Homo sapiens: one gene and its partners. The protein of the gene in region 1 interacts with the protein of each later gene in a biochemical or structural test. Each region holds a gene or a part of one and is shown in the gene's direction. Other genes may lie near its edges. The genes, in order: NFIB, FOXL1, KLF8 and NHLH1.

Region 1 (7,026 bases):
TTTATATTTTTATCTCCAGTAGTAACAACTCTATAAGATAGGTGATTTTTATTGTCTCCAATTTGTTAAGTGAGGAATCTGAGGCAAAAAGAGGACTAATAACCTAGCCAAGATTTCATAACTGGTCATCTGTGGCTAGGATTCAAATCCCAGCTCTTTGATTTCAGTGCTCCATGTTGCTGCACTACCCATGCTTCACATCTCTGAACTGCATCTAATTCCTTGGTCAGCCCTGAAGCTTTATGTAAAATCCAGTCAAATTGCCAGTTCTTAGAATCTAGTTTTGTTTGTTTGTTTCTCAGATGTATTTCAATTCTGAGGATTTTCAAACTTATTCTCACCCTAGGACAGAAGCAAGTAGGCCATAACCTCCCCTGCTAAGGTATTCCTCACACTCATTACACCCCCTTAACATAGATGAGAATGGGGTGGGCTGGGTGCAGGGTTACTGTTGTTTGTGGGAGTTCTCATCTCTAGTTTTGGACATAGACCAGCTAGCAAGCAGGCTCCATGGCCACTGTGGACCCTGCCCCGGTGTGACTTAAGGGTCATGTGGCATTCCCAGAGGCCTGGATTCACCACCATTTGCCAGAAAAGTTGTCTAATTCTTGAAATAAAAGGAGTCCAGTGGAATAGTAGCAAGGGTGAGGAAAGCAGTGAAATCGTGCAACGTATATTAAAGATGCCCAGAAATAGGTCAACGCAAAGTTCTGTATTTGCTGTATATACAAGTTCTGCTTTTTATGTTATTAGTGACCCTGGAACAAGGGTCGGGGTGCTGGTAACAGCAGTTCACTTTTCTTTCATCAGAGAAGGGTTTACAAAAGAACGGTGGCTTTAAGAGATCTTTGACATTATTCCAGCAAGGTGCTAATTGTGGTTGTGGTTTCCTTTTTCTTTCTTTCATTTTTCGCTTTAGTCTACCAGGTGCTACCGAGTCAAAAGCATTCACTGAGAGCCCACAGACCATTCTGTATGCATGGGCCATGGCAAATCAAACCGCATCAATAAACCTGTACTTTTAGAAAGGGAAGAAAAAATTTTCCTAAGAGATTATTTGGTATCTAAACTTTTTATTTTTGTTTAAACAAACCTAATTTGCATTCCTAAGAGTCATTTTTTAAAGTCCTTATTGTAAGCATATTTGGTTTTTGTTCAAACCATTGGCTTTAAAACACTTAAATTCTAGTGTATAATCATTTATTTTACTTTCTGCTTATATTGATCATTTTTCCTTTAATATTTATTTTCAGGTTACCTTGAGGATAGTTTTGTAAAATCTGGAGTCTTCAATGTATCAGAACTTGTAAGAGTATCCAGAAGTAAGTAAATTGTTTTGTTACTACTTAAGCATGCAGTATGATTTAAAATACTTTATATTTTGAACCTTAAATGTAGTATAAAGAGTGACCACATATTAGGAAAATTTGAATTAAAATCTTAAAACCTTTGATGAAATAACAATATATTTTGCTTGATTTTCTAAAATGTTTGCATTCAAATCATCAAAACTTTTTGTTGTACAAAAATAATTTTGGGGTTTTTCTGATTGCCATGTTATTGGTATTCATTTAATTCACTGTTCTCTGCATGACCATAGATGGCCATTTATATCAAAGGAAGTGTGATTAATTAAATGTACTCTATGTTGTTATGATAACCCACATAAGTTTCCTGTAGATAAGTGCTTTTTCATTTTACTAACATTTTGGTGGGGGTTGGAGATGCACAGGATATACACACTAACGTGCAGAGTGTAGAGGGATGCAGAAATTAACTTTGCAGATTGTAGTTGGATATAGATAGAAAGCATTGTTATCCAAAACAATGTCCAATTGTTTTAACTGGCCACTTCACCTGAGACACCATTCTTAGCAGGCTGGATCAGATTTTTCTAGGCTAAGCTCACCTGGCAGGCTACCTAAGCAAAGGGGACGTTACCTTGATTAACTCTTTTACTTATTACTAGCATGTACAAACATATCCAAGATGCAGATCTATATGTACTAATTATGTTAAAGAAGGTGACTCCTTTCTTCATACTCCCTTCACTGATTTAGCTTATTTATGTAACTTTGAAGGGTATATTTTCACCTGACATTTTGATAGAATGCATCACACTTCGGAGTGATGTTATTCAGATGATGTAGTCACACTCTGATACCTGCCTAAGTTGTGTTTCTCATTTGGGTCATATTTAGAGGTCATGAATAAGAATTATGATGATCCAGAAAGAACAAAGAGTAATCGAGTTACTGAGGATAAGAATAAGCAGTGTTTTAGAGTCTTGTTGTTCAGTAAAGGAATCTTCACGCTATCACTGACTGTCTTTTGAACCGTAGTTCCTCAAATAGCTCACATTTCTAAAGTGAACAGTGCAAATAGCATGTATAGCAGGGAGTGATACATATGAACGTTTAAGATCTTAAGTAGTTTATCCTTTCTGGTATAATTCTAGAGTGGATAAATGTATGCCCAAAAGACTTCTCTCATGGGTCTTTTTACATGGTGGCAGTGTAGGAGAAGAAACACAAATATCCTGTATTCTGGTAGCCCCAGGGTGTGTATTCGATGGGCAAGGAGATTGTCCAAGGCAGTGTACCTTAATGTGTTTTTCCAGATCAATATGTGATATCCAAAGGTATCCAACATTTGAAAGTTTTCACTTTTAATTTGGGAAGAAATATGCCTGACTTACCAGTAGCACTTTGTAGCATCAGGTAAGACAGGGGTTATCTGAAGGGGTGTGTGTGTCTTCCCCATACTCTTCTTTAGCGGAAAGGCTTATGGTGCTCCAGTTAGGAGGCTTATTAAATTATTTGCTTAAATTTGTACTTCTCTGAGTTCAAGTTCAATGGTATATTTTCATCCTTCTTAGGAGTAGGGCAGTAGAGTCAGCTGTCAGAAAATATTTATTTAGTACCTCATGATAGGTAATATTATGCTAAGGGCTGTCAAAGGAGAACCACATTAGAACCTTCAAAAGCCCAGATAGATATTTTGAAAAATCTGAATTTCAAACATTAAAACAAAGATGAAAATTATCTTTCTAGAACAGTTCAAAACCAAGGTAAATTTAATATACTTCATTCATTCATTCTTAACTTATAATGTCATATCCTAGAAACTTTTAGGTTATTTGTTATAACAAACATTACTGATTTGTAATTAGCACATTAATTATCTATATTCATTACGTAATTTATTCAGCAAACATTTATTTTCTCCTCCATATGTAAATAGGTGTCTCTGAAAGGCCTGATAAGTTCTCCTCCTAAGTGTTTTAATATATCCGCATCATAATCTTTGTTTACACAATTAAACTTCATTATTTATGAAATAGGGGTTTGCTAAGTAAACATAAACTTCAGCACAACACTATGTGTGTATCACAAATTCTGACTTCTTGAGGGTTTACAGTATGCTAGTGCTTTCAGTCCTCTAGGGTTTTACAATCATAAGACCCACTGATGTGTATGTTGACTTTAGCTAATGAAGCCATTCAGCATTAGGATAGTGATCTCTCTTTTGAATGATATTATCTCCATCTTAAAAGTTGATTTAGGATCAGCTTTTGGAGTGAGGAGAACAATAAGGGAGATTAAAGGTTGGCCTCTAACCCTTAGAATCTGAGGTTCTTTGGTGCTTCATTTCTAAGAGGATATCGGCATCCTCTTAAACATGATTTGCAGCTTTCAGCCTTCTTGTAGCTCCCTGGGAGAGGCGCTAACACTGATCTTTGCGTCTGATGTAAGTTCTTCCAGAGGCTCTTAAGCAGGAATATCTGACTGAGACTTGCTGTTCCCACACACTCTGTCATTAAATAATTTCCATGTGTGTTGTTTTAGTACTTTGGCCGTGTTTGTTAATCTACTTTCCTTTCTGTATCTCCCATTTAGTGTCAGAATGCATACTAAATTTTTACAGTGCTCATGCATAAATCCGTAGACAAATTATTTTATTGCTATCTTTACAAAATTAAAACATAATATGTGTACATATTTATGGAATCCATGTGATCTCTGGATCCATGCATACAGTGTATAATGATTAAATCAGGCTATTTAGGATATCTGTCATCTCAAACATTTATCATTTCTTCATGTTGGGAATGTTTCAAATCTTCTTTTTTTGCTATTTTAAAATATGTAATATATTGTTGTTAACTGTAGCCACCCTGCTGTGCTATCAAATACTGGAAATTATTCTTTCTGTCTATTATAACTGTATGTTTTTACCCATTAACCAATCTCTCTTCATCTCCTCACCTCCCCACCCTCCCCCACCTCTGACAACCCCTTCGATGAGATCAACTTTTTAAGCTCCCATGTATGAGTGAGAACATGCTATATTTGTCGTTTTTATTGCTGTCTTGACACTGCGGAATAATCTTTCTGGAACAAAATTTAGAAAAAAACAATTTCTGAAGATTTTAAAATTATCATTTACTACAAATTACATCTAGTTTATTTATGGGTAAGCAAATTATGTTAACTATGGAGCCATATGTATTCAATAGAAACTATAAATCTTTGCCTAAATATTGCATGAGCTTAATAAATTGAAAATAGTTTATGTAAGGTGGAACCTCTAAGTTTCCTGTTAATAACTCAGGTCTATGAATTGTATCCATTACTGTGATAGGAAGCCAGACAGATTGTTTACTTCACTTGAGCCCCTGAAATACTCCTTCTAGCATGTACCCCACTTCCAGTGTCATATAGAACATGGTTCTAATAATAAATTATAAAACATGCGGTTACTGTGGGATTTCTTACCTCACATTTTTTTAACCTTTGGTGTGCCTCAAGCCACAACAGACATAGCTACATTTTAGCTGTCCAAATAATTCAAGCCATCAGGCACTTAGTTACTCATTGGATACAAGTATTTTCTGTGTAAAGGATGTTACAGTGTATTATATAACATGAACAATCTATCAGAAGGCTGATAGATAATCCAGAAGTTTGGAGCTGTTACTAGTCATGTATATACTGATGTATTTAATTTTTAGTCCAGAAAGGGAGATGTTCATTGTGTATTCCGTGGTTACTTCTCTGTGATAAAGCTTGTACCTCCTAATCATACTTTCTTAAAAATATTTTAAGTTAATCTTAGCCTGCCTAATATTAAAATACAATTCAAAGGGTAGTGAACACATTTAGAATATTCATTAAAAATGAGGGGTAAGAAAACTTCCATAAAAATCTGCAATCCCTTTGGAATTTTATACTCAACTTGAGGCAGATGGGAGAGAGGAGGAGTTTAAGTAGACCACGTATGCTTAGAGTGCATCTCAGGGGCTCTAGAATTTTGTTGCAAAGCCCCAGAGTACAATTTCGTGTGAGCTTTTGAAGGGCTGATTAAGACAGGTAAAGAAATGGAAACTATTCTTAAGGAGTTCTTTGACACCAACCTGCCTGGTCTCCACTTTGCACATTATCTCTACCTATGATTTTGCTTCTGCAGCAGTCCCTGTTTAGAATGACCTCCCTCTAATCTCTTACTCATTCTCCAGAGTCCAGTGCCAGCTATGGCTTTTCGCAGACTTCTTGGACAATTCAAGCTGGTATTGGATTCTTTTTCCCTTGAAATTCTACAGCAGTTTTGGATCATGTCATTAATTTGGACAGTTTCATTTTCATCTATTTTGGTATTTATGTGTTTCGCATGAATGTTTTACTTACCCAGCTTGTTGCCCAATATTTTTATTAAGGGCAATATATGAGACTATTTTGTACACATTGCAGCCAACACCTGCCAGCAGTGGACACAGTCAGTAATTTGTTGAATGAACAAATTTTCAGCGAACAGGTTCATTTATACCTCTTCCTCTGCTTTTAACACGTTTTTGAACTGTTCATCTTTGCTAACCATTCCAGTCTACCAGGGAAGAAGTTTGGAGGAGAAAGCAAAGAAGGAAGGGAACTCACAATGGTTGAGCACGTGTTATACACTAGGCATGATTCTAGGCTCTTATCACTACCTATTTCATTTCATCCTCAAAATAATCCTATGTGTCCGGTTATTATTACTCCCATTTTACAGTTAGGAAACTAGGGCACATAACTTATAATACAGAGGGAGTTTAAACTAAAAGGCTATTTATCTCTCAAGACTCTGCTGATTCTAACACAATATGCTGCCTCACAGCTTTGTTCATGATATCTAAAATTAAATTTAAAAAATGTGAACAGATGTAATTATACAAAATATCATGAGATATTTTGATAAAGACATACAATGCATAATAATCACATCAGGGTAAATGGGGTATCCATCACCTGAAGCATTTATCCTTTGTGTTACAAACCAAAAATTATTATTCTATATTATCAACATTAATATCAACATTAATATTTGAGTGGATTAGAAGTCATGATATTAATAATTATTATCATATCCTAACTGGGAGGCTGTGAATAATGATTTTTGCTTTTTTTTGTGAAACGGTTCTCTGTTTATTTATTTAACAATGATTTGGTTTTCGAGAGCCTAGGTAGTGCAAAGCAGCTTGTTTGGTGTTGCTGAGTGATAGGACTCGTATATTCTGTTTCCTCCAAGGCATTTTTAACTAGCAGAGTGACAGATGTAATGTCAACTAATATAAAGGAGTGAGTAAAGAAGGTTGAGGAATAGGATTCGGGAAATTGGTAACCAGTGATTATAATCTGATTGCCTCAAATTTCCAAGCTTGAACGTTGCTAAGGTGAGCAAGTTTTCAGGTCCTACCCAGGTTGTATGGTGGGTATTAGAGGCTTAAGGTGAAGAAAGTTCTCTCTATCTTTGACCAGAGGCATGAAAGATTCTCGATTATTACATTTGAATAGAGGTCAGAAATACGAATGTCATTCCCAGTGCTTCTTTGTCTTATTCCTCAGCGCCCATAACCCAGGGAACTGGAGTCAACTTCCCAATTGGAGAAATCCCAAGCCAACCATACTATCATGACATGAACTCGGGGGTCAATCTTCAGAGGTCTCTGTCTTCTCCACCAAGCAGGTACTGAAAGAAGGGCTGCTCATA
Region 2 (7,121 bases), on another chromosome or scaffold:
TCATTTGGGAAGTCCCGCCCAGCTTTTGGGTCTCCTTCTGCATTTGCTGATTCAGTGGGACCACCATTACCTTCATGTCCTGCTCACTGCCTCCCAAGAGAAGGGAGGCCCTGGGCCCTGCTACTCCAGCTCTGGAAATCTTCCACTCTTTTCAAAGTGGGCGGGGAGGGAAGGAGGAAGAGGTCTTCTGGGTTTTGGTGGAACATAAGCAAGGACTCTGGGATTTTCTTATAATGTCCTGAATCTCCCAGCTCCAGGGGTGCTGCACACCCTCTCCTCTCTGGAGGGCCCCTCTCCCACTGTCTACTCCAGACAATCTCTGCCTCTGAGTCCTTCCAGATACCTGAGCATGTCAGACCCCAGAGCACCCACTTTTGGAGGACACTCACGTGGGCTGTGGTCCCTGTGCGGCCATTTCCTACTTTCAGGGTCTTGGGGTGTTATGTGCCGAGCCTCAGTTTCATCATCTGTCAAATGGGTGAATCTGCCACGCCTGCCTTTCACAGATTTAGTAAGAGTTGGCAAGAGAACTTCCATGGAGCCCTGAGTGTCCACACCTGGTGCTATTGTAAGATTATTTTCTGTCTTTGGAGCACTTCCTCATGGGACACCTGAGGCAGGTTAACTTACAGGGCGTTGTTCAGTTTCCTGGTTTGCAAAATGGGAGCGACAAAGGTTTCTATTAGGGCTGCTGTGAGGATGAAATGGCTCAGTACATTCTAGTTATTCATATTATTATCATCTGTCTCCAATGTTTTTAGGTTGTCAGTAAGGTGAGGGGCTAAACCCTTCATCTTTCCACCGCAGCTCTTCTCAAACATGCTACACGCGGTTGAATCATGCATACGTATGTAACACACACACAAGTCGTACATGCGGTAACTGTCTTTACGTTTGGAAAAGTGATGCAGATGTTTGGAAAGCGACACAGATTACTGTTAACTCAGGTTTCTGCTTTTTGCTTTCCAGTGAGGAAGGTTGAGTGGATGGCTTGGGGCGCAGTGGGAGGAGCTCTTGTCTCTCACCCGTCAGCCTTTTTATCTGAGGCCGTTTTCATCACCAATGCCTGGTCTCTGATCTGCCTCCCTGAGGAACGCACATGCGCTTTGTCCCAGGACTGGGAAGGAGGCTGACTACCCTCATCCCACGCTGAACCCCGTTTCTGCTCAAGCCTCAGAGTTGGAAACTCCAGTCCTTCTGGAGCATCCGGGCAGGCCAGAGATCTCAGGCTTTTCTTGCAGGCTGGGAGGTGAGCCCTCACCAAGTGACTTCTCAGATGACGCGCTTTTCTGGGATCCGAGGCTTATGAATCTACAGGGAACATTCAGTGTCCCCATCTGGCTCTCTAGGACACTCGTTCTAGAGGCCCGCCCGGCCGTCTCCCAGCTCGGCTGCCCCCCGCAGGCCCTTCGCTCTGGCCTCAGCCAACAGAGCCTCCGCACGAGGGCGCATCCGCTCTCGGACTCCTAGGGCTTGAGCCTGCACTCCCCGGAAATATGGAAATTGCCCCAGCGCGGGGTTCCTTCTAACAGAGGCCCCTCCTAGGCTCAGGTTACAAACTCATCAATCACCCGGGAGCCCGGGATTCAAACCCGCTCTGGAGCGGGGCTGGGGCGCAAAGCCGGAGTTCTACAGCTGAAACCTCCCGGAGACTTTGCACACTTCTGCAAACGCGCGGGGCTGGGTGTGCGTCTCCAAACCGCGACTAGAGCGTGGGCATTTGTTTTTTGTTTTTTGGTTTTTCTCTCTCTCTCCTAATCTCTCTCTGTCTCTTTCTCGCTCTCTTTTTTTTTTTTTTTTTTTTGCTTTACTATCGGTGCCCCGCCCACCAGCCTCCCGTGTCTCCGCCCACGTCCCGCCCATTACCAAATCGGGCAGTATTTATCACCGTACAAATTCAAGCTCGGATTTGCCTTAGAGTTTAGAAGACGCGCCGGGACGGCGGGAGTTTCGGTAGAGGCAGGGATGTGCGTGCTGGACTTCGGGTGCCGCGTGGGGAGCTCCAGGAGGGGCTGTGGGATAGGAAGGTGGGGAAAGGGTTGCATAGTGACACCGGTTTATCTCTCGGTCTGGGTGTGTTGGAGCGAGCGCCGAGGCTGGAGAAGGAACTGGATCCAAACTTGAGCTTGCTGGGGGCGCGCGGCCCCGGAGAGGTTGGGTGACCCCAGAGACTGTGGGGCCTGCGGGTTGCAAAGGCGCTGGCATTGAGGTTTCTTCACCCCAAGTTTGAAAGGGGTACGCGGGTGAGAGCGAGTGGTAACGAAAAGACAAAGCCTCGCCCCTCCTGGCCAGAGGTTCACCCCCAGGACCTAGGCGGGCGCGGCCGGGCTGCTCGCTGGACCCACGTTAGAGGAGCAGGGCCGCGGAGGGAGGCCCGAGGTGTCCCAGGGACTGGCCTGTCGCTCCCGCAGGCAGTGCCGGTACCCAGGCCGGTTTTTCCACCCTTCCTGCGACTTCCTTTTTGGTATTTTAAATTTACCCGCTCCCCTGCGGTCTACTTATTCCATGGGCTGGATACCCAGGAACCCCAAACACACGGGTTATTTCTGATTTTCTCATTTTGAAAAAGGATGCCCGCCACGTTTCCGTGTTCAGAGGCTACCTGGGCACTCACATCCTCAGCCGGGTGTGGCAGCGGCAGACACTCCCCCTACCCCTGTAAGTGCCCTCGGTGCCTCTCCCTCCTTCCTGGCCCACTGGCAGTGGGCCATTTCTACACCCACCTGCCATCCTCCCCCTTCCCTCATCTCTTTGACATGCTCACACGATTTGCTCAATGAGACGCCAGTTATCCGAATGTGTGTGTGTGTGTGTGGGTGTGTGTGTGACAGTGTGTGTGTGTTTTAATATTCAGGGGGTGGTCATAAACAGGAAGTAGTCACACTAGGTGCCTCTACCCTTACCCTAACCGGTGGAGTGGGGAGGAGAGGCCCCCTTCGAAATCAGCATGATTCAGGATTTTTTATTCAAACAGTGATGTGGGAAAATGTAAAATGAGATGGGGGTGGAGGGCCGCGTACACCCCAGGGTGGGTGGATACAGGGAGAGCAAGCAGGCTTCCCAAATGCCTAATGTAATCACGGGCCAGCTGCATGCACTTGTAAAGTTGTTATAACCCCCTCCTTGTTATAAACAGGAAAGCCCAGAATATAAAGCTGGAGACCCACATTCACAAATACCAGGCCTCCCGCGCCAGCTGCCACGGCCTCCTTTTATGGTGTTCCTCTCTTGCAACCTTGGCCCCATCAGGAGGACCTTACTTTTGCCCCCGGTTCTCTAAATGGGTTTATTTTGAAACCTTCCTCAATGGAGCTGTGGACCATGAGCTCTTCCCCAGGCCCCCAGTGCCTTAGGCCTTCCCTTCCAGAGAGACTGGGCTCCCAGAGTCCACTTTCCCTCCGATTTCCGGAGAGCCCTGGAAGGGAGGGTGTGGGAGAGCAGGTCCCTAGAGAGTGCCACCTCCTACTGGGTCTGCCACCTGTTTTTCCAGGGAGGGCCGCATCCCCTTCTCAGCAGACACTCAGGCTTCTTAGATACTCTCCCTGCCCCAATCTAAAAGGTTCCTAGGACCTCAGAAAGTGTTTTACTAGACTGTGGCATCTCGATATCTCCGGTTAAGCCTGGGAGAAGAAAAGACCTTTTGTGGGAGGCCCTGGCGTTATGGGGCTCCCCCAGGCCAGCGTAAAACTCATCCCTGCACACCCACCCCCATCTCCACCTCTCCTTCCTGGCTCAGCAGACCCTGCTCTGAGCCACCGCAGTCTACATCCTGCCTCACTGACTGTGTGTGCTTACAGCGTCAAGGGGTGGACGTGATATTTCAAACATCAGATCAGTGCGTTTATATATTGGGTGCCCGGAAATTTTTCCAAATAAACACAGCTTGATTCAACTTGGGTGGGCGGACTTATCAACAGACTAATTCTATAAACAAATGAAGGAATAGCCCCAAAACCGATTGGCTGGTATCAAAAAGACACGTGGAGGGAAAAGCTTGGAGTTTTTCAGCAATGAAATTTTAATTAATGTGGGTGGGCTGAGAACACAAGGACTGTTTATCATAGACAATTTATTTTCCAGGGCTAAGTCAACATATAACAGCAAACTTACAACAATTATTTAACATTTTTAAAGCCATGAAGAAGGGACAGAGCACGGAGCGGCCGGGGAGAGCGGCAGAGCCAGAGGCAGAGGCACGGCTGGCTCCCCGGGAGGGCCCTTGCGGCGCGGGGCGCAGTGCCTAGGCCGCCCGGGTCTCCTGCGTTGCGGGGAGCGCAGCGCAGGCTCTCGCTTGCCATGAGTCACCTCTTCGATCCCCGGCTGCCTGCCCTGGCCGCCTCGCCCATGCTGTATCTGTACGGTCCCGAGAGACCCGGCCTCCCTCTGGCCTTCGCCCCCGCGGCTGCTCTAGCTGCCTCGGGCCGGGCCGAGACCCCGCAGAAGCCTCCCTACAGCTACATCGCGCTCATCGCCATGGCGATCCAGGACGCGCCCGAGCAGAGGGTCACGCTCAACGGCATCTACCAGTTCATCATGGACCGCTTCCCCTTCTACCACGACAACCGGCAGGGCTGGCAGAACAGCATCCGCCACAACCTCTCGCTCAACGACTGCTTCGTCAAGGTGCCCCGCGAGAAAGGGCGGCCGGGCAAGGGCAGCTACTGGACGCTGGACCCCCGCTGCCTGGACATGTTTGAGAACGGCAACTACCGGCGCCGGAAGAGGAAGCCCAAGCCGGGCCCCGGGGCCCCGGAGGCCAAGAGGCCCCGCGCCGAGACGCACCAGCGCAGCGCGGAGGCGCAGCCGGAGGCGGGGAGCGGGGCAGGGGGCTCGGGCCCCGCAATCTCCCGCCTGCAGGCAGCGCCCGCGGGCCCCTCGCCCCTCCTGGACGGCCCCTCTCCGCCGGCGCCCCTCCACTGGCCGGGGACCGCGTCCCCGAACGAGGACGCTGGTGACGCTGCCCAGGGCGCAGCGGCCGTGGCGGTCGGCCAGGCAGCGCGCACAGGGGACGGCCCGGGGTCCCCTCTGCGCCCCGCCTCCCGCAGCTCTCCGAAGAGCTCCGACAAGTCCAAGAGCTTCAGCATAGACAGCATCCTGGCGGGAAAGCAGGGCCAGAAGCCGCCTTCAGGGGACGAACTCCTAGGGGGTGCCAAGCCTGGGCCCGGCGGCCGTCTGGGTGCCTCGCTCCTGGCCGCCTCCTCCAGCCTCCGTCCGCCTTTCAACGCTTCCCTGATGCTCGACCCGCATGTCCAGGGCGGCTTTTACCAGCTCGGGATCCCCTTCCTCTCTTATTTCCCCCTGCAGGTTCCCGACACGGTACTCCACTTCCAGTAAAGCAAACAATGGCACGGTTCTTCTCCCGGCCCAGCCTGAGCCTCCGCTGAGCGAAAGGCCACAGCTCCCACCGGCGGAGGATTTTAAAATGATCTTTGCCTGGGTCGGCCTGTGGGTTCAGGGAAGTGTTACCAACCATTGCGCGCAGGTGGGCGCGCTCGCCTGCCTTCTCCGAAGCAAACTTTTCCCAGCAACTGGGAGCAGCTACGGAGACTTAAAAGATCCCCGCGGGGTCGTGGGCACCGCACGTGGGCCCTGCAGGGACCTCCACCGCGGGAGATTCCTTGACGTTTGACCTGTCTAATGGAGTGTGGTCTTCAGCCGCCCACCGCAGGTCCTGCGAGTCCCGGGCATGCAAGGGCCCGCAGACCACCCAAGGCAGGCCTTACAGGTGCAGTTGAGGTCCTTTCGACCGGGGACCCCCGTATGACCGTCGCCTGCTTCGCTGTTGCCGTGTGGCTCAGGCCTTGGTTTTGAGCCCATCTGGGTGGTGGGTGGTCACAGCTGGGTTTGTTCCTGACTTGAAGTTGTGGAGGTGCCGGGGGTGACCCCGGGTTTTCAGGTTTTCTGAGAGATGTAGGGCCCGATGAGGATTTATGACCAATGTTCAGCTATAGAAGCTGATAACCACCCAGAGCAATAACACTTTTATTTTAAACAGAGACTTTTTCTCTTAATTTCTTTCTGGGTAGTAAAAAGAACATGTTTCATTCTTTGCATAAATACTTGACTCTAAGCATTGACCTTTGAAAACGCTTGTATTAACAATTTTTATTAAGAAAGTGCACTCTATATAACATCTTCTTGCATTACGATAGCTCATTAGCCAATACACATGCAGCTATGTAAGCCACAACAGCAGACGTCCTATCCTTTTGCTTTTGTTTTTAAGGGATCAAAATATTTCAAGGGATACCATGAGGAAGGGTGTGAGGGGAAGGGGATATGCCTTGGACAATGTCAGAGTTTTGATTTCCATGTTTTTTCAAGATCCAGGCTTGGTGGTCGCTATATTTTTCAGAAACAGATAATGAAAGACTACATTTAATTTAAAAAGTTGGGTGAAACAACCAAAAGCAGATGCAGAGAGAGAGAGGGATGAATGCGGGGGAAGAATAAGGGGACGTGCTGGTGTCCGCTGGAAGGGGCCTCTCTGGGCCCCAGAGGACCTGAGGTTTGATGGCAGGAATCTCCCAGACACTCCTGGCCCCCGCACCCCCTGCAGCCGCCCGCTCTTCCCTCCCAGCCCTGCCAGGCAGGCCTGGAGGCTGATACTAAATCAAAACCTTAAAGAGGTGACTGGCAGTCTGGGGAGGGGAGAAGAGGTCTGCAACGAAAATCTAATTAAGAACATTGAGATGTTCACAACCAAGTTCAGCTTGCAGCTTCCGGGGAAATGCAACCGACCTCTATGCCATCTCTAGCTGGGTAATCTTCGAGGCCCTGAAATGCAATTTTCTGAACCTCTAAGTCACTTTTATTTTATGTCATGTGATAAAGACACAAGTAGTCACGCACTATTGGAAATAGGTTGGGAGGGAGGTCTTTAAGATCGCTTTTAAAATAGTTTCCAGGACTTGTCTAAAAATGATGACAAACTTTGAATCCAGAGGGCCTGTTGGTCAATGTGTTGGAAAGGACATTTCAGGCCGGCAGAGTAATTGGATAATTCACAGGCATAGAGGTGACTTTTGGAAAATTCATTCTCCTATCCATGCTGAACCAGGCTTCCACGACTGGGTTCTACCCAGGCCAGTGGGAAGACTCTGGGAAACTTCAGGCCAGCC
Region 3 (7,026 bases), on another chromosome or scaffold:
TTTGAGTTGTTGACTGCCTGTAATTGGCTGAAACTCTGTGATTGGCGCAACAGTAGATTACACTGTCTACACATCCAGTTAGGTTATGGTTCATTATGGATGGGGAAACCTTTAGGCTGAACTTGAAATATGTAAGGAGGAAGCTTTAAGCTAACCTTAATTTAACAAACCCCACCCCCAAGTTCCATGGAAGCCTTAGGGTTCTGCAGAGGATAGTCTGAAATCTTTTAATCATAGATGGACAAGTTGTGGCTTAGGAAAAAAAAGGCCTTGCCAAAGATTATGGGATGTGAGTGCTGCACATCTAACTCCCAGAAAATCTGGTTGAGGAAGAAAGCTAGTAGGTGCTTCTAGTATGAATGACTGATGGTTTAAGGCAGCTGAATTAAGACACTAATTCCTTTTTTTAAGAGGAAAAACTAAAGAAGAAAGAGAAAACTGTTTTTATTACCCCACCTGGCTTGCAGATTTAAGAGACGTAGACAGATAAAATACGTCTCTAGAGAGATTTGGCCTTGATGTGTAAATAAGTTCACTCGGGTAAATATATATATAGGAGCTTGGAACTCCTTCAAGCAAGAACTAGACCAGGAAGGTAGAATACTGAAAACTGTAGCTATACTGATGTTCCTCTGAAGGCAGAGCATGTTGGAGAAATAGGAAGAAACAGATTACCTGCATGCAGTTTGGTGGAGGGGAGCAGCTAATATTATTGGGGAAAAGTTAGGTCCATCTTGATGAGTAAAATAAATCAGAAGGTTTCAATGACTTATCAGTATCTGGTAAGCACTGAAAGATAAAGGTCATAGAACACACATAACATTAATGGCATATTTATGCATATAGTGGGTTAGATTTTATTCTGAAAGTTGTCTTTTCCTTTTCTCTTTTCCAGATATGGATAAACTCATAAACAACTTGGAGGTCCAACTTAATTCAGAAGGTGGCTCAATGCAGGTATTCAAGCAGGTCAGTTATCAGGAAAATAGGGTGCTAATATTGGGCCATAATAGTATTGAATACCTGGTAGTGATTACAGAATTTAAACTCATTTTTCTTTCTATAACATGTTTGGGGATTGAGAAGAGGTGAAGGAAGACATATTTCTAGAAAGTATATGAATGCCTTGGTTTCATAGTCAGCTGGGGAGTAGATCTGGCCTAAAAGAAACATAGCCTCTGGAATCAAGGCTATAAAGACAAGAGTAGACCTTTAGTAGACAATAGCAACTATTTATATAGCACTATTTCATATTTCAGATAGGATGAAGATTAAATGCATTGTCTTATTTAATCTTCACCATAATCCTGTTGAACAGTGTATTAATTAGTATTCTCCAGAGAAACAGAACCAACAGGATATGTGTGTATGGTGTATGTGTGTGTGTATGCATATATGTACATGGAGAGAGAGAGAGAGAGAGATTTCAAGAAATTGGCTCATTAGATTGTGGAGGCATGGCAAGTCCAAAACCCCATCAGGGGTAGGCCGGCAGGCTGGAGATTCAGAAGGAGTTACAGTTTGAGTCCAAAAGCAGATTGTGAGAAGAATTCTTTCTTGCTCTATGGAGGACAGTCTTTGTTTTAAAAACTAAGGTCTTCAACTGATTGGTTGAGGACCACTCACATTATAGAGAGTAATGTGCCCTATTTAAAGTACAATGTTTTAAATGTTGGTCTCATCCAAAAAAATACCTTCACAGAAACATCTAGAATAATGTTTGACCAAATATCTGGGCACTGTAGCCCAGCCAAGTTGTCACATAAAATTAACCATCATTATTCTTAGTTTCCCCATTTGATGGAAAATAAAACTGGCCTTGAACACTCCAAGAATTAGGATTCGAAACAGGTTATCTGGATTTTATGTCCCAGGGCTCTGTGCTAGATGTTGAAGTCCCGTCTTTCTTGGGGTTGCAAATTCACTGCATGAGTGAAACTCAAATACAGTCAAAATTAACCTTGAAAATCCTTAAATCACCTATAGACTTGAGTATACAGTGTTGTATATACAATACTTGTCTGTTTCTTTATTTAATTCATCAGATAAAGTTGGTTACATTTAGGAATCTTTTTGTTATAATTTCAACTTTTATTTTATTTTTTGAATTTTTATATATTTATTTATTTATTTATTTATTTATTTGAGACGGAGTCTCGCTTTGTCACCCAGGATGGAGTGCAGTGGCACAATCTTGGCTCACTGCATCCTCTGCCTTCCAGGTTCAAGCTATTCTTCTGCCTCAGCCTCCTGAGTAGCTGGGACTACAGGCACGCACCACCATGCCCGGCTAATTTTTGTATTTTTAGTAGGGACAGGGTTTCACCATATTGGCTAGGCTGGTCTCGAACTCCTGACCTCATGATCCGCCCACCTCGGCCTCCCAAAGTGCTGGGTTTATAGGTGTGAGCCACCGTACCTGGCCTTATTTTTAATTTTTGTAGGTACATAGTAGGCGTATATATTTATGGGATACATTGAGATGTTTTCATACAGGCATGCAATGTGAAATAATCACATTATGGAGAATGGGGTATCCATCCCTGCAGCATTTATCCTTTGTGTTACAAACAATGCAATTACACTCTTTTAGATATTTTTTAAGTGTACAATTAAGTTATTATTGACTCTAGTCACCCTATCATGCTATCAAATAGTAGGTCTTATTTGTTATTTCCAACTTTTTTTTGTTTTTGAGATGGAGTCTCTCTCTGTTGCCCAGGCTGGAGTACAGTGGTGGCTTCTCAGCTCACTGCAACCTCCGCCTCCCAGATTCAAGCAATTATCTTGCCTCAGCCTCCTGAGTAGCTAGGACTACAGGCACATGCCACCACGCCCAGCTAATTGTTTGTATTTTTAGTAGAGACAGGGTTTCACCATGTTGGCCAGGCTGGTCTCAAAATCCTGACCTCAGGTGATCTGCCCATGTCGGCCTCCCAAAGTGCTGGGGATTACAGGAGAGAGCCACTGCACCCAGACAATTTCTAACTATTTTTTCGTACACATTCACCATGACCACCTCCTCCTCAACACCCCACTGCCCTTCCCAGCCTCTGGTAACCATCCTTCTACTCTCTATGTCCATGAGTTCAATGGTTTCGATTTTTAGATCCCACAAATAAATAAGAACATGTGATATTTGTCTTTCTATACCTGACTTATTTCACTGAACATAATAATCTCCAGTTCCACCCATGTTATTGCAAATGACAGGATCTCATTCTTTTTATGGCTGAATAGTACTCCATTGTGTATCTGTAACACATTTTCTTTATCCATTCATCTGTTGATGAATACTTAGGTTGCTTCCAAATCTTAGCTATTGTGAATAGTGCTGCAACAAACATGGAAGTGCAGATATCTCTTTGATATACTGATTTCCTTTCTTTTTGGTATATACCCAGCAGTGGGATTGCTGGATCATATAGTAGCTCAATTTTCAATTTTTTTGAGGAACCTCCAAATTGTTCTCCATAGTGGCTGTACTAATTTACATTCCCACCAACAGTGCACAAGTGTTTTCTTTTCTCCACATCCTCACCAGCATTTATTATTGCCTAACTCTTGGATAAAAGCCATTTTAAATATCTCATTGTAGTTTTGATTTACATTTCTCTGATGATCACTGATGTTGAGCACCTTTTCATATACCTGTTTGCCATTTGTATGTCTTCTTCTGAGAAATGTCTATTCAAATGTTTTACCCATTTTTAAATTGAATTATTAGACTTTTTTCTATTGAGTTGTTTGAGCTCATTATATATTCTGGTGATTAATCTGTTGTCAGATGGGTAGTTTACAAATATTTTCTCCCAATCTATGGGTTGTCTCTTCACTTTGTTGATTGAATCCTTTGCTTTGCAGAAGCTTTTTAATTGATGTGATCCCATTTGTTCCTGTTTGCTTTGGTTGCCTGTGTTTGTGGGGTATTGCTCAAGAAATTTTTGCCCAGACCAATGTCCTGGAGATTTTCCCAAATATTTTCTGCAGCAGTTTCATAGTTTGAGGTCTTAGATTTAACTCTTTAATCCATTTTAATTTAATTTTTGTATATGGTTAGAGATAGGGTTCTGGTTTCATTTTTCTGCATATGGATATCCAGGTTTCCCAGCACCATTTATTGAAGAGACCACGCATTCCCCAATGTATGTTCCTGGCACCTTTGTAAAAAATGAATTCTTTGTAGATGTATGGCTTTATTTCTGGGTTCTCTATTTTGTTCCATTGCACTGTATGTTTGTTTTCATGCCAATACAATGCCATTTTGGTTACTATAGCTCTATAGTATAACTTGAAGTCAGGTAATGTGATTCCTTCAGTTTTGTTCTTTTTGCTTAGGATAACAGGCTATTCTCGGTATTTGTGGTTTGATATAAATTTTCGGATTTCGTTTTTCTATTTTTGTACATAATGTCTTTTTTTCTTTTTCTTTTTTTTTTTTTTGAGATGTTGTCTCACTCTGTTGCCCAGGCCGGAGTGCAGTGGCACAATCTTGGCTCATTGCAACCTTCACCTCCTGGCTTCCAGCAATTCTTGTGCCTCAGCCTCCCAAGTAGCAGGGACTATGGGCATGTGCCACCATGCCCAGCTAATTTTTTTTTTTTTTTTTGGCAGAGACGGGGTTTCACCATGTTAACCAGACTGGTCCTGAACTCCTAACCTGAAGTGATCCACCCACCTCTTTGTGTTCCCAAAGTGTGTCAACAGTGAACAATCTGACAAAGCAACACTTTGCTTCCCAAAGTGTTGAGATTACAGACATGAGCCACTGCGCCCAGACAAGAATGTCATTGGTATTTTGATAGGGATTTTATTGAATCTGTATTGTGTTTTAGGTAGCATTGAAGCAGGATATTTCCTTGACCCCTTCGTGGGTGGGAACTGGAGTGCACTGGTGCTGGACCTAGCTGGCGCTTTGGCACTAGCAGGGGCGAATTCCACTCACTTAAACCTGCTGTGTTCTACCCCTTGTGGGAGGGGAATCACAGGTCAGTGGGTGCAGGAGCTGGGGTGAGTGCCTTTGGGCACCGGCAGGAGCAAAACTCTATGCGCACCCCACAGCAGAGTCCGGGGGGCGGGGTGCCTGCGACCCTTGAAGCCCCAGAAGGAGTGTTACAGTACCCTTTTAGCTTTGCTGTTTGCAGATGGCTTAAGCATTAACAGCTCACCAGAGGGTCAGTGTGACAGCCTTCTGCACCCACACTGAAGTTCTTGTCTGGCATCCAGGAGGAATGAGGTTACACAATGAATCAAAGGTGGTTAATGTGGGAGATTTTATTGCTGATCAAAGTGGCTATCAGTGGGAGGGGGAGCTGAAAAGGGGATGGAGTGGGAAGGTAATCTTCCCCTGGATTCCAGCTGTCCCCATCTGGACTCCTCTCCAAAGCTATGCCATCAAGCTGTCCCTCTGAAGTCAAGCCACTTCTCTCCAACATCCAACTATAATCTCCAACGTTTAGCTGCTTCTCCTCTTTCTGCCAGCTGAGCCTGGGTTTTTATGGGCACAGGATAGGGGGCAGGGTCAACCATGGGTGGTTTTGGAAAAGGCAACATTCAAGCAGGAAAACGGAAATATAAGTTCTCACTTTGGACTGTGGTTCCAGGCTTCAGGGTGGGGCCCTCACCAGGGACCTGCCCACTTCTGCCTAGAATTTCCCTGCCTCCTGTCCCTGTCAGTATGGACATTTCAACAATATTGATTCTTCCAATCCATGAACATAGAATATTTTTCCATTTTTTGATGTCCTCTTCAATTTCTTTCTTCAGTGTTTTATAGTTTTCATTGTAGACATCTCCCACTTCTTTGGTTAATTTGTAGGTATTTAATTTTATGTGTGGCTATTGTAAACAGGTTTACTTTTTTATTTCTTTTTCAGATTGTTCACTGTTGACATAAAGATGCTACTGATTTGATTAGTTTGATTTTCTATACTGCAGCTTTACTGAATTTGTTTATGGGTTCTAATAGTTTTTTGTGGAGTTTTTAGGTTTTTCCAAATATAGGATCATATCATCTGCAAACAAAAATAATTTGACTTCTTTTTTTCCAATTTGAATGCCCTTTATATCTTTCTCTTTTCTGATGGCTCTAGCCAGGACTTCCAATACTATGTGGAATAACAGTGTTGACAATGGGCATCCTTGACATGTGCCAGGTCTTAGAGGAAAGGCTTTCAGTTTTTCCCCATTCGATATGATACTAGCTGTGGGTCTGTTTTATATGGCTTTTATTATGCTGAGGTGTTACTTGTATCCCCAGTTTTTTGAAGGGATGTTGAATTTTATCAAATGCTTTTTCAGCATCAATTGAAATAATCATGGTCTTTAATCCTTCATTCTGTTGATATTATGTATCACATTGATTGATTTGTGTGTTGAACTGTCTTTGCACCCAGGGATCCCACTTGGTCAGGATGAAGGATCTTTCTAATATATTGTTGAATTTGGTTTGCCAGTAGCTTGTTGAGGATTTTTGCATCAGTATTCATCAGAGATATTGGCCTGTAATTTTCTTTTTTTGAAGTGTCTTTGTCTGGTTTTGGTATCAGGGTAATACTGGCCTTGTAGAATGAGTTTGGAAATAGTTCCTCCTCTATTTTTCAGAATAGTTTCAGTAGAATTGGTATGAGCTCTTCTTTAAATGTTTGGTAGAATTCAGCTGTGAAGCCATCAGGTCCTGGGCTTTTCTTTACTAGGAGACTTTTTATTATGGCTTCAATCTCATTACTTGTTATTGGTCTGTTCATGTTTTGGATTTCATGGTTCAATCTTGGTAGGTTATATGTGTCTAGGAATTTGTCCATTTTTTTCTAGATTTTTCAATTCATTGACATGTAATTGCTCATAGTGGCTACTAATGATCCTTTGAATTTCTGCAATATCAGTTGTAATGTCTCCTTTTTCATTTCTGATATTATTTATTTGGATCTTCTCTCTTTTTTTCTCATTAGCCTGGCTAAAGGTATGTCAATTTTGTTTAACTTTTCAAAAAACAACTTTTTGTTTCACTGATCTTTTGTATTTTAT
Region 4 (7,285 bases), on another chromosome or scaffold:
AGGCCGCCTTAGGAGACAAAGGCAATACAGCCTAGAGGGCCGGGAGGAGAGGGCTCAGTTGGGTGCTGAGAAGGGGGGCTTCCAGCCGGGCTGGCAGCAGAGAGAGTGACAGATTGTGTAGTGAGCCAGAGTGGAGACCCGCTGTCACCTTCCAGAGGCACAGAGAGGTGGAGACAGAGAAAGACAGACTGACAGAGACCATGTGGAAAAACAAGGAAAGAAGCTAAGACAGAAGACATCCAAGACAGGCTGTCCCTTCCCAGAAACAACAGCTCCTGCCCAGGAGGAGCAAGCTCTGCCTGTCTTGCTCCTGTGACCCAAAACACTGCCACTGTTACAAAATAACACCCTAGCCATAGGCCACTCCTGGGAAGGGTCAGGCGGTGTGGCACAGCGAGGGTTAATGTCGTCTGCTGTCCCTGCCAGCCGCTTGCCTGGTTGGGTCCCCAGGGCTCCCCACATATGTCACCCCCTCTCCTGCCAAACCCACTGCTTCCCAGCTCCTCCAGGCCCTCCCCCCACCCTCAAGGACAAGGCCCAGGCCCCTGTGTCTTCCCTACACACCAACCTCCCTCCCCTCCCTCAACGATCTACCTCTCAGGCTATGGGGAAAGATTTGTGAATCATGATCTGAAAAAGTGAATGCCTATAAAATGTAAAATAGCAGGAACACTCATTCTATTGTATCAGGTTTTGCTTGATTATCGGATTATAGCAAATAAAAGCCAGTGGAGATTTTTAAACAACAAAAAGAAAGTAAAATAACAACAAACTATAAAGCCATAATCATCCTCCTTATCCCCAGGCCCTGGTCTTCCTGTCCTCCTTGCAGCAAAGACCCACACACAACTCCAAGGGTTCTCCCTTTCACTGGGGCCAGAGGCCAGACAACCTGGGTTGGCCTCAGAGCTCTCCCCTGCCTCCACAATCATAATGCTTCAGATATATGTGTGTATGAAACTTCTTGCCACTTTTAAATCACCATAGGAGGTTGGGATGAGCACTTTATACAGTTCACCTAGCACTTTCCCATGCATTATTTCACCTGGGTGTCACTACTATAACAAAATAAAACTCAGCCAAGGTTAAGTGACTTATCCAAGGTCACCAGGACTTAGACCCATGTGTAGCTGCCCCCAAATTTAGTAGATGTAGTTCTTCCCACCATTTCATGCGTTTATGTCCTCTTTGTCACAACTATGTTCTTTTTTAGCTACTCCCCTAAGGAGCAAAAGCTGAAATCCTAAGTGAAAACTGGGGCAGGAGGCCCCAGAGTCCAGGATCCTGGGATGCCAGATGCAGAGGAGGAGGAGCAGCCCCCAGAGCACTCTTTCACCCTCCTCTCCCGTGGAACCTTAGCTTGAACTGCGACGGGTTCAGGCGGTGTGCTTCAGGGATGGAGGTTGCAGAGCTTAAGTATCTGAGCAAAATGGCCTGAAAGGAGGGAGCCCTGCAAGGGGTTTGGCTTCTTCCTGCATGCTCTATGCCATCCTCAAGGTTCCTTTCTGCTTCGGGGGTCTCTCTAGATTCTGCTTCTTTTTTCCTCAATGTCTTACTTTTTGGGATCTGGCCTCCCTGTTTCAGTAATAGTTCCTCATCTCCATCGTTCAGTTTATCACCTTTCCCCACCTTGTTCTCTTTGTCTCTGGTATTTTTTGTTTCCTCCCAACTGTCTGCTCTCTGCTTACCCCGTGCCTATGTGGCCCCACCTTGCCTTGGGGCCTCCCTCAGGACTCTGTCTCATGGTGTCAGTATTTCCCTGCCGCTGAATAGCTGTTTCCTCCACATATGTATTCATCCAAGTCTGTGTCTCCCTAGCAGCCTCCTTTTTTTTTTTTTTGACGGAGTCTTGCTCTTGTCACCCAGGCTGGAGTGCAATGGCACAATTTTGGCTCACTGCAACCTCTGCCTCCCGGGTTCAAGCGATTCTCCTGTCTCAGCCTCTCGAGTAGCTGGGATTACAGGCGCCCACCACCACGCCCAACTAATTTTTGTATTTTTAGTAGAGACAGGGTTTCACCATGTTGGTCAGGCTGGTCTCAAACTCCTGACCTTAGGTGATCCACCCGCCTCGGCCTCCCAAAGTGCTGAGATTACAGGCGTGAGCCACCGTGCCCGGCCACAGCATCCTCTTTTAAAGCCTCTCCCCAAGTCTCTATCTCTCCCATAGCTTGGGTCTCCAAGTCTTCCACAAAGCCTTGGCAACCTGGCAATTCTGTTTCCATTCTTTTTTTTTTTTTTTTTTTTAAATCTTTTTACCTCCTTTGTGTCTCAATCTCCCCATGAGACTGTGTCTTCCCATTTCCCTATGTCTTTCCCATGTCTGTTACCCAATGACTCTGGTTTCTCATTTTTTTCTCTCCCTGAGTCTCGGTATCTTCCCGTGTCTTTCTCGTCGTTTCCCTCCGCTTCCCCTGTCTCTGTTCATCTCCCCTTCTTTCTGTATCTCTCATCTCCCCCATGGCACTCTCTCCTGAGTCTCTTGGTCTCCCAATTTCTTGGATGGGGTGGAGGGCAGGAGAGTGGAGGAGGTAGAATTGTTGTTGCTGGGGGCTCATTAGGTGGAGATTGGTTTTTAATCAGCACCATGGCAATGATGATGCAAGAACTGAGATGCCACCTGATCCCCTGCCCCCCAGCCCCCCTCCTCAAGCCTCCTTTCCCCTCCAGCTCAGCCCATCTGCTGGCGCCTGGGCACCTGTCTGGGCCTGCCCAGGTGGGAGTTGGCACCTCCCAGACTCAGGGATGGGGGCAGGTGGGGGAGCTTGGGGAGGAATTATGGGACCCCCTTAGGGAATGCTTCACCCTGGAGAAAGCCCAGAAAAGGTTGACCAGCAACAGGGAAATGGCAAGTCCCTCCAGCCTGAAGGTGGGATGTGCTCCTACTAAGCTCTAGGCCCACTACACATATTATCTCCCTTAATTTCCATGGCAACCTAAGAAGCAGCTATAATCAACCCCATTTTACAGGAAAAGAGGTCCAGGCTCAAAAGGTTGTTATTTGTCCAAGGTCACACAGCTGACAGAGCCTTTTTCACTGTACCACACTACCTCTGGAGTCCTCTCCAGTCATGGTTCTTTTGAATACTCTCAAAGGTTCAGAGAAGACATCCAACAGCTGAGTGGGGAGAGAACTTCAGACACTGAAACCCTCTATGCACTGTCTCTCTATGCACTCTGGTCCCTGTGCTGCCCCTCCTCAATCCTGCCACTCGGCAACACACACATACACACACACACTCACACTTACATTCACATTCACACACACTTGCATATACATGCTGGAGGCTGCTGAGCTATTGATGGGAGCTTAATCAGTGCCCATTTGCATATAATTTTGTGTCTGGTTTTCTTATTGCTGATTTGATGCCCTCAAAACACACTCAGAGCCTGCCTAGGCTGCCCTGCCCTCCTCTCCCAGTGTCCTTCCAATCCTGGTTCTTCCTGTCTTGGCACTCCTCCACTCCTCTCCTTTTAGCCCTTACCTCTTTCTTCCTAAGAGCCCTCTAATTCCCAGTGGGTCAGGTTGGGCTGGCCAGCCTAGAAAAACTCCTTGTGGGGTCTGTGTCCCAAATTTGATCCTGCTCCTCCCCTTGGTGATGGGTTAGGTAGGAAGATAGCGGGTGGGGTAAGAGGGTATGGGGGTGATTGAGTCCCAGGGTGATGAGGGTAGGGGCCTGAACAGTTGCTACAGGCAGGCTGGCAAGCAGTGGGTACCAGCTTTATGAAGGATAAGAGCTTGAGGGCCAGGACCCTAGGGTCCTCTTCTGCATTTTAGTGCTACCCACTTGCTCTTTTCTCGGTTTCCCTGTTAGTACCTTGAAGAGTCTCCCTCTCAGGAAAAAAGAGACACCAGGAAGGGGCTGTCCAAGTCACGCTGGGACTCCGAATGGGGCCATGGCACTTAACCATAGCTTGCTGGGAGCCTCTGCCCTGCTGCCTCTGGTGTGGGAGACTGAGGGGGTTCATCTGTGGTCCTGCCCTGGCTCTCGCCCCAGCCCCACCCCTTCCCCAGCTCTCCATTTCTTGCTTATGAAATATGCATGGAGAACAGATGTCCCTGCTCCCCCGCTCCCCGCCCCCACCCAGGGCCAGCCCCCGCCCCCAGCTCCCGAGGGGTTCCCAGATCCCTCTGCCAATGGCTGCCTGGCCTGGCTGTTTAATATTGATGAGGGGGGGGTGGGCCTGGGCCAGCCAATGGAGAGCTGGGGGTGTGTGTGTGTATCTCCATATATATACATAGGGCTGGGCCAGCTCAGGTGTGTGTGTCTGAGGGTGTGTGTGTGAGTGTGGCTGGCCCCAGTACCTGGCCAAGCCCACCACTTCCACCTGGGCCCTACACCCCCACAATGTGTACCCCTCTTATCTGCCCTGGAGCCTGTACAGCCATGCCACGCTACCCCTGAGAGTCTAGAAAGCTGGTCACTAACTTTGCAGACGGATGAGCCTTGAGCACCCAGAGGAGACTGGGGCTGTCAACGCTGCCCCTTGTCCTGCCGGCTTGGATCCCCTGACAGGGTCCTTCTAGGTAAAGGGGAAACCATGGGCGGGGAGGGATGGGCGTGTCCCTCCCATTCTCTGGCTCAAGCCCCTTCCTAGAGCCTCCCTCTAGTTCTCTCCCTTGTGCGCTGTGTCTCTCCCTGTCTCCGCGTGTCCCTCTTCTCCACTCCTCCCCTTCGACTCTTTGTGCCTATCTATCCTCAGTTGGGTTAGGGCTGGCAGAAGTGGGGTGGGAAGTCCTGTCCTGCAGGCTTGGAATTGCTGCTCCCCTGATCCTTGGACCCTGGAACTTTGAGACCAGAAGTGGATTTGGGGGTGAGGACTTGATGGGTAAATAGAAGCTGCTGCCGGGACTGGAACTGGGGAGGACAATGGGGCCAGGTGGAGATGAGACTGGGGCCAGATGGGGAGCACGGAGAGGGGAAGGAAGGGCATGGCAAAGTGATGAGGGATGAAGGAACATAGGGACCGGGCAGAGAGAATTAGCCTGTGATAGATGTGATAAATGTGTTGGGAACTCCGCAGCTGAACTCCTGCTCCCAGCCCCAGCATGGGGGGTGGGGAGTTGGGGGCACTAAACATGTACTGGGAGGTGCTGACTTTGGGGCCTCCCACACTATTGCCATCCCCCCATAGTTCATTTGAACCCCAGAATATGGAATGTGTTCTCAATTTCAGCACTAACCACCTTCTGTTTCCTGTTAAGATTGTGTGTGTACTTGTCATCAGATGTGGATGACTTTGCATCCCTCCAGAGCTTCATAGCTGTTTGTTGGCTTGACTTGAACCTATCTTCTGTGTGGTGGGGTGGGGCAAGGCTTGGGAGGATCCTAACCCCTTTGAGAGTATCTATCAGACAGGAAAGCCAGGGCTGGGGAGGAAGGGGAGATAGTGATGGTGCAGGCACCTTGGTGCTTCTGTTTCTAATCATTCTTAGTTGAGCTGATGGTGAGTGGCCCACTGTTCCCCTTTAACACTGCACACAAGCAAAGCCCTTTCCCCAGCTTTTCCCAGGCCATGTTTGTGCTGCCTTGCCCTGATCTCCTCTGGTCCTAGGACAAGCAAACCTTAGCTGAGTCCCATAAGGGTAGCTCCAAAAATCTGTCTGTGTCCTCTGCAGGCCGTGTCTGAACCTTCCTTGGGCTATGGGAGAGTATGGGGGTAGAAGGTTGATTATGTTCCCTTTCCCCAATCTTCCTTGCCCAGCCTCCAAAAGGGCCAGGGAATGGCAAGGGCTGAAAATTTCGAAGACAGAGGTGGAGGAAGAGGCTGGTTGTGCACAGTGGGGTGGTGGTGAGAAGAGATATCTTCCCCTGGTTTTAGTGGACAGGATCTCATATCTACAATGGTTCTGCTGGGAAGGTTTGGGGAACTGGGAGGGGAGCTGTGCAGAGCTGGGGCAGCTGCGCAGAGCTCCATATGTCCTAGTCTATTCTACAATGGGCAATCTGTGTGTTTATCCGCTCCTCCACCTCAGGCAGCAAGGGTGGAGAGGGGCCCTGAGAGGGAGGGGACCACAGGGCCAAGGCTTGTATTCTCCCCTCACAACTGGGAAGCATCTAGAGTCATAGCTAACTTCTCTTGGGGCTGTGGCTGCAGTCTTGCTCAGATTTTTTCCTCCTTTTATTTATTCATTTAGATAAAAAACAGCATACAATTTATAATCTTAACCATTTTTAAGTGTACAATTCAGTAGTGTTCAGTATATTCACATTGTTGTGAAACAGATCTCTAGCAATTTTTCATCCTGCAAATGTATAATTCTATACCCACTAAACAACAACTCCCCTTTACCCCCTCCCTCCAGCCCCTGGCAACGGCCATTCTACTTTCTGTTTCTATGAATTAGACTACTTTAAATACCTCATATAAGTGGAGCTATACAGTATTTGTGTTGTTACTGGTTTATTTCACTTATCATCATATCCTCAAGGTTCATTCATGCTGTAGCATGTGACAGAACTTCCTTTTTAGGGCTGAATAATATTCCACTGTATGTATATAATACATTTTGTTTATCTGTTGTCTATTGATGGACATTTGGGTTGCTTCTACCTCTTGGCTATTGTGAATAGTGCTGCTATGAACATGAGTGTGCAAATATCTCTTTGACACCCTACTTTATTTGTATATATACCCAGAGGTAGGATTCCTGGAGCATATGGTAGTTCTATTTTTTATTTTTTGAGGAACATTTATACTGTTTTCCATAGTGGTTGCATCATTTTGCAATCCCAACAAGGCATAAGGGTTCCAATTTCTCCACATCCTTGCCAAGACTTATTTTTTGTTTGTTTGGTTTTTGTTTTTATAGTAGCCATCCTAATGGGTATGAAGTGATATTTCATAGTGGGTTTGATTTGCATTTTAATGATTAGTGATGTTGAACATTTTTTCATATGCTTGTTGGCCATTTGTATAAAATCTTTGGAGAAATGTGTATTCTAGTCCTTTACCCATTTTTTTCTTAAAAAATGTTTATTTATATAAATTTATGGGGTACAAGTGCAATTTTGTTACATGCATAGATTGCATAATGGTCAAGTCAGGGCTCTTAGGATGTCCATCACCTGAATAACATACACGGTACCCATTCTGTAATTTCTCATTTCACGCCCCTCCCAATCCCTCCTTTGCCCATTTTTAAATTGGGTTATTTGATTTTTTGCTGTTGTTGAGTTGTAGGATTTATTTATATGTTCTGGATATTAACCCCTTATCAGATATATAATTTGCAAATATTTTCTCCCATTCCATAGATTGCCTTTTCACTCTGTTGATTATG

The links.
Region 2: the proteins of NFIB (region 1) and FOXL1 form a complex in vitro, tested with the Homo sapiens proteins (one study listed by BioGRID).
Region 3: the proteins of NFIB (region 1) and KLF8 form a complex in vitro, tested with the Homo sapiens proteins (one study listed by BioGRID).
Region 4: the proteins of NFIB (region 1) and NHLH1 form a complex in vitro, tested with the Homo sapiens proteins (one study listed by BioGRID).

The regions. Positions count from the first base shown.
Region 1 is NC_000009.12:14,150,121-14,157,146, reverse strand, and holds part of NFIB (nuclear factor 1 B-type), read left to right. Parts: intron 1-1,253; coding exon 1,254-1,322; intron 1,323-6,881; coding exon 6,882-7,002; intron 7,003-7,026.
Region 2 is NC_000016.10:86,574,428-86,581,548, forward strand, and holds the start of FOXL1 (forkhead box protein L1), read left to right. Parts: upstream 1-4,121; 5' UTR 4,122-4,296; coding exon 4,297-5,334; 3' UTR 5,335-7,121. UniProt on the Homo sapiens protein: Transcription factor required for proper proliferation and differentiation in the gastrointestinal epithelium. Target gene of the hedgehog (Hh) signaling pathway via GLI2 and GLI3 transcription factors.
Region 3 is NC_000023.11:56,249,336-56,256,361, forward strand, and holds part of KLF8 (Krueppel-like factor 8), read left to right. Parts: intron 1-895; coding exon 896-969; intron 970-7,026. UniProt on the Homo sapiens protein: Transcriptional repressor and activator. Binds to CACCC-boxes promoter elements. Also binds the GT-box of cyclin D1 promoter and mediates cell cycle progression at G(1) phase as a downstream target of focal adhesion kinase (FAK).
Region 4 is NC_000001.11:160,362,810-160,370,094, forward strand, and holds the start of NHLH1 (helix-loop-helix protein 1), read left to right. Parts: upstream 1-4,261; 5' UTR 4,262-4,528; intron 4,529-7,285. UniProt on the Homo sapiens protein: May serve as DNA-binding protein and may be involved in the control of cell-type determination, possibly within the developing nervous system.